2 separate regions of the Homo sapiens genome follow, and region 1 is linked to region 2. The links come from fine-mapping of genetic effects on gene expression. A gene starts in region 2. The other region holds a variant in brackets. All regions are shown on one strand. Distances are between the middles of the regions.

The links. PIP is the estimated chance that this variant, and not a neighbour inherited with it, causes the effect. A credible set is the group of variants that fine-mapping cannot tell apart.
Region 1: its variant is the best candidate, but not a certain one, in a credible set for the expression of SMAP1 in whole blood (INTERVAL, PIP 0.53).

What each region holds. Positions count from the first base shown.
Region 1 is chr6:70,808,677-70,811,591 of GRCh38, reverse strand. All of the region lies in intron 6 of SMAP1 (small ArfGAP 1), which reads right to left. Among named protein-coding and RNA genes, the nearest start is that of SMAP1, 140 kb to the right of the region's middle. The variant G/A (reference allele first, on the strand shown) is at 1,791.
Region 2 is chr6:70,666,308-70,669,222 of GRCh38, reverse strand. It overlaps SMAP1 (small ArfGAP 1), which reads right to left and starts at 1,340. Exons shown (of 11, transcript NM_001044305.3): 1 at 1,082-1,340. The coding sequence starts at 1,199. RefSeq lists silencers at 599-658, 779-1,008, 1,159-1,558.

The DNA.
Region 1 (2,915 bases), 140 kb before region 2:
GTGTGTGTGTGTGTGTGTCAGCAGGGGTGGGGTCCTGGAGCAAATCTCCCACGGGTACTGAAGGACAACTATATTCAAAGGAAGCCTTGACTGATCTCACCGGTGCCCTCCCGAGGATCGCGTAACAGGCAGGTTTTCATTCTTCTATCGAGACCCAGTTTCATGGATCTAGATTTTGAATCAACAATTCTCAAGTGAGAAGTGATTATGCTTCCCAGGGGGCATTTAACAATGTCTCTGAAGACACTTTTTACTGTTAGGACTGGTAAGATGCTGCTGAACATCCTACAAGAAACAAAACAGCCTCCTGGCCACTCTATCCCTAATGCCAAAAATAGCACTTGGCATGTAGTAGGTACTCAGAAATGTCCAAAAAGATTTACATATGAAGAAACTGAGGCACAGAGTAGTTAGACATCTAGTAAACAGTAAAGTTGAGAATCAAATTAAAGTCTTGTAATCAAGTATAGGTTCTTCTATCTGCATCTTTTAGTAGTTTGTTAATATTTTTCAAAAGGCTTTTAAAAGCCTATTATCCTTTGACTCAGCAACTCCAGTTTTAAAAATTGATTGTAAGAAGTTATTACACAGTTGTACACAGATTATGTATACAGATTTTCATTATCCCAAAGAGAGATAAACTTTAAGTAGAGTCTTACTGTGCTCAGTGGAAGGTAAATTATGCTACATCCATTTGATGGAATGTTAGTAAAGACAGAAAGGCACAGTATATGTATCAATAAAAAAAGGGGAGCCAGGTGCAGTGGCTTATGCCTGACTTGAGGCCAGGAGTTCAAGACCGGCCTGGTCAACACAATGAGACCTCAACTTTAAGAAACTTTTTAAAAAATTAGCCAGACATGATGGCATGCTCCTGTAGTCCTAGCTACTTGGAAGACTGAGACAGGAGGATTCCCTTGGGCCCAGTTTGAGGCTACAGTGAGCTATGATCACACCACTGCCCTCCAGCCTGAATGAAATAGTGAGACCCTGTATCTAAAAAAGAAAAAAACAAAGAAAAGTCAGTCAAAATATTGTCAAATGACAAAGGGACAAAGTAGGTTACAAAATAATATGTATAATATGATCCCATGTGGATATATATATTTCCATGGGAAACAATTAGGAAGGATGAATGCCAAGGCATTAGTGATCATTTTTTCTAAGTGGTAACATTAATTTTTTCTTCTTGCTTACATGGATTTTGTGACTTCTTACAAATGTATATGGTTTGAATATTATGGGGAAGCAGAAGAAAGAGACTATCAAAAACCTACTAGGAGAGACAGGCACATTGGTGTATGCCTGCAGTCCCAGCTAGTCAGGTGCAGAAGGCTGAGACAGAAGGATCCTTTGAGCTCAGGAGTTCTACGCATGCCTGAGCCCCACAGAAAGACCCTATCTCAAGAAAAAGAAAAGAAAGAAAATACACTTGGAGGAAACATACATTTACCAATTTCTTGGTTAAAGAATAAGAAACCCTATACATTTACCAAACAAGACAGATTATTTATTTTTACTGAGGGGTACTACACTGTAATCTTTCCTGCTTCAGAGGAAAAAGATTTTTTCTTTTTTAATGCCTCCTAGCTAAAGAAAGATGAGGAGTTGTTAACAGCAACTAGCATTCTATACCATAATAAAACTTGGGCAACAGGGAAGCAACACTAAAATGCTTCCTAAACCTAATATATAGTGATACTGAATCTATTATTTCCTTTAAAAATCTATAAACAAAAGATCATCATCAAACTAATCTTCAAGATCTAGCTTTAAGCTAGAAATGTAAA[G/A]ATTTGAGGAAAATATAAAGAATCTTCCAAAACTACTTATACAAATGTTCTGTGAGACATCTGCTGCATTTACTCACCTATACCATGTTTCTATGATTTTTATAAAAGTATTATTTATTGAAAATATCTTGTTCTAAAATGCATTCACGCATCATATGAAAGGTTTATTTAGCTTAAATTACAATGAGAGCTTGGTGGGTGTGTAAATGTATCTGTCAGATTGTTAAACAACATAACCTATCAATCTAGCATCTGGCAATGAGCCATTTAATTTAATGATTTACTAAGAATAATTTATTTGATTTACAAGTGGTTGTCACTTTTACATGGTTATATTGAAATTTCAAGTTCAACAGATTTGCAATTGTTATCTTGTGCTTATATTAATAGGTTAGCTGACATATTTATCAAATACAAATGTATTTTTTAAATTGTATTAACATAAAAGGTTTGTTCAATGAGGAAGTTTGATGGTTGTTTTCATTTCTTTCCCAACTAATTTTTTTTAAATCATTATTCATCTACATTATCTCCTTAAATACCCAAATACTTGCCGTATCTTGAAATAAATGTATTGATGCTGGTAAGTATGTATTATCAAAAGCAGTGGTCTTCTCTTATAGCGTCACTGCTTCTCCACTTTCCTTCCTGGAATTTTTATTCTACTTTTATATACTTTGTGAATTGATTTTCTCTTAAAAACGTCAAGAAGCTAATGGCAAATATCTGCACAAGAGACATTATTTTACATTAAAAAATATCACAATACATACTTTAGGGACTCTATGCCAATGAAAACAATCTATTTTAAACTAAGAATACTCCACCAAGGCATATATGCAAGAAACCAGTAAGTGTGTACACACACACACACACACACACACACACACACACACACAGGGAAACAGCCTGCACTAGAAATAAATGGTTCTATTTTCTCCTAAATTAGACTTTGTGTTTTAACAGAAAAAAAAAAAACCTGATTAAAGAGAGCAGTAACTAATGTAGGCGAGAAACCAGTTTGAAATAATAGTGAGGAAAAGTCACTGAATAAAAACTAATTATGTAGCTATCTGAAATCCACCTTTAAGGATACTGTTAGATGATGTTTGGAATCAGTCCCTA
Region 2 (2,915 bases):
GTCTCCTGCTTTAGAGAACTACCCTATTTCTCACCCAATAACGAAATAAACCAATTAAAAATATACACGATCTTTTCTTAACTACACAAGACATTTCTTTAAAAAAAAAAGAAATATTTCCCTTGAGATTACTTACAAGACATTAAACATAAATCAGATCTCCAAACACAAAACATAGCAGCTAAAAATAGTATATCTGTTTCAAAGGCTGAGGCAGAAGCCCTCCAACCGAAAAAACTAAAATTAGGTTTTTTCCATCTCTAGATCTTTAAAATGAACCTTCAGCATTTATGAGGTACACAAATCAGTGTCCACATATTCTCCCAAACTAGCTGGTCAGAGAAAACCTAATTACTAAAATCTTCAGAAATACAAACCCACCGTCCTCCAAGAGACTCATGTAATGAAATTCCTCTTCATTCTGGCTAATAACCAGACTAAAAAACAATACTACTACTAATAAAGACCTTTCTCCAATTAATTTATTCCGTAAAACTCAAACCCACCGAAAAAGACCACCATACTCTTTTTCAGGAAGCAGAGATAAAAGCCTTGTACAAAAGCTGTCAGGTGGGCAGGCAGGTAGGGCTCCATCTAGGAGACCAAGAATCCGAGCCCGGAGTGGGAGGACGTGGTCACACCGGAGGGTAGAGGAGGGGATCCAGACCTAAGCGCGGCCCCACCCACAGAGATAGCTATGAGCAGAGCTAGGAGGGCAACTCTCTAACCCTAAGCTCTGCCCAGACCCGTGCCCGGTTCCGCGCTCCCAGCCTCGCTCCTACCCCCAGCCCTGTGGAGGGTCCGAGCATCGCTACCCTGGCACCTGCTCAAACCCGTGTCTGGGAGGAGGGGAGGCTGGGGCCACTGACAGGGCCTGCGGGCCTGACCTCGCCGCCGCCTCTGGCGGACTTGAGGGTCGACAGGAGCCCCGCGCCCGCCCGCTCAGCCACCCGCCCTCCAGTCAGGGCAGGAGCCGGCCAGCGAAGCCGAGGCGTCCGCTCGGGCCCCGAGCGCCGCAGCGGCGGGAAGGTCACCGGTCGCAAGAGGCCCCGACCGTGGGCAGCGACGACGTCCAAGCTACCTTTGGCCTCGCAGTCGGCGCAGTACTTGTTGTCCTCCTCCCTCAGAAGCTTGGATAGGATGAGCTGGTGCTGCTCGTTCAGCTTCTGAGCCTTCTCCCGACAGGAGCGCGTCGCCATCTCGGCAGCGGGGCGGGGAGCCTGGGGCAGCTACGGCGGCGGCGGACGCTGGCTGGAGCCGGGCAGAGTGAACGCACCTGGCGCCGCCGGGACCGCGGGCGGACTCAGCCCAGGAAGCGGCAGCGGCAGCTGGAACGGGAGGAGGGGCGGCGGCGGCGGTGGCGGTGGTAGCGCCGACGTGTCCCGCCTCCTTGACCGGCCTGCCGGCACGCACCACCCTAGCCGGCGAGGGGAGGGGGAGGGGGACTGGGTCGCGCCGAGGCTTCCGGGTGGCGCGGAGGAAGGAACCCGGGCGCCGAGCGCGCTGCGCATGCGCCGAACCTACGGGGCCCGGGCTGCCGAGTCTTTTTGCAAAAAGGCCTTCTGCCCAAGGTGATTCCCGAAAGGTAGCTGGCACTGCCTCATACGAGCTTTCCCCCCTTTTGAGATGTGATGGTCCGCAAGGGCCTCTAGTAAAACCCAGTAATGGAAGACCTTTTACAAGAAGCCTACTTTGACTTGCCCATTTGCCTTTGCTCTTGCTGGCACAACATTGGAAATGCAGAAATAACTAGCGACTGGGTGGGTTCATTTACTCATTCGAGGTTTATTCGCCTGCAGTTTAGAAGCTGGAGACACGGATGGAAGAAAAGAGGAAAAACGGTCTCTTACATTTTAAGGGCGAGAAATAATCTAGTAGTGACATGTATTAGGGGATAACATTTCATTGAGTGATTACTCTGTTAAACGAACTGTTAGCTCATTTAACCCTTTCCCCAACCTTATGATATTGTTATCCTCATTACACAGGGGAGGAAAGTGAGGCATAGAGGAGTTAAGTAACCTGACCAGATTACAGAACTACTAGTGGAGGAGTTGAGATTTAAATCCAAAGCAGTCTGGCTCCAGAGTCTGAAAGACCTGGCAGTAAGCCCTTCCATAAGGGGGAAAGTGTGACCAGGAACCCAAGTACTAGGCGGTGATACTTTAACAAGAAGCTGTGTAAATAGTGATCCTTAATGCAAGAGAAAGAGAACTAAAGAAAACACTTTTCATTGGAACCCAGACCCTAATCCAGGCTCATGAAGTTTGAACTCCGGGTGACGCAGTTTCGATGATTTGGCATGTTGTATATTATGAGGAAGTTCTAATATGGGGCTTATGCAAGCCAAATAAACACAGTCCTTGCCTGCGATGAAGCAGATGCTAAGAAAGGCAATGAGCAAGAGTCGGTCTTACACTTCTTAGTAAGGCCAATTTCTAGCCCCTGTCCCTGCATAAAAGTGACCCTCATTGCTACCTAGCCCTGTTCTTGGCACAGGGGCTCAAAAATGTTTCTGGAATTAAATTGAATGGATATGGCAATGAAGATGCTCAGTAATTAAACAAATTAGAGCTTATACTACATAGCTCTGACAAATAACTACTAGGGAGATATTGGTGAGTTCCAATGAACAGAAAAAAACATTATGTGGGAGGTAGAACTTACGAGCCTTGTCCTGAAGATACGCTGGATTTAGATGGGGACTGGGGAGGGAGATATTAAGAAAGAGCAGCTTGCACAAAAGCATGAAGACCTGAAGTACCTTGGAAAACAGACTGGAACAAAAGGTACTACTTTTGAGATAAGGCTGCATAAGTAAACTATGATAGGGTTATGGAAGACTTGGGAAGCCAGACAAAGTAGTCTGGCCTTGATGCAAATTGACAGTAGAAAACCTGTAGATTTTTGCCAGG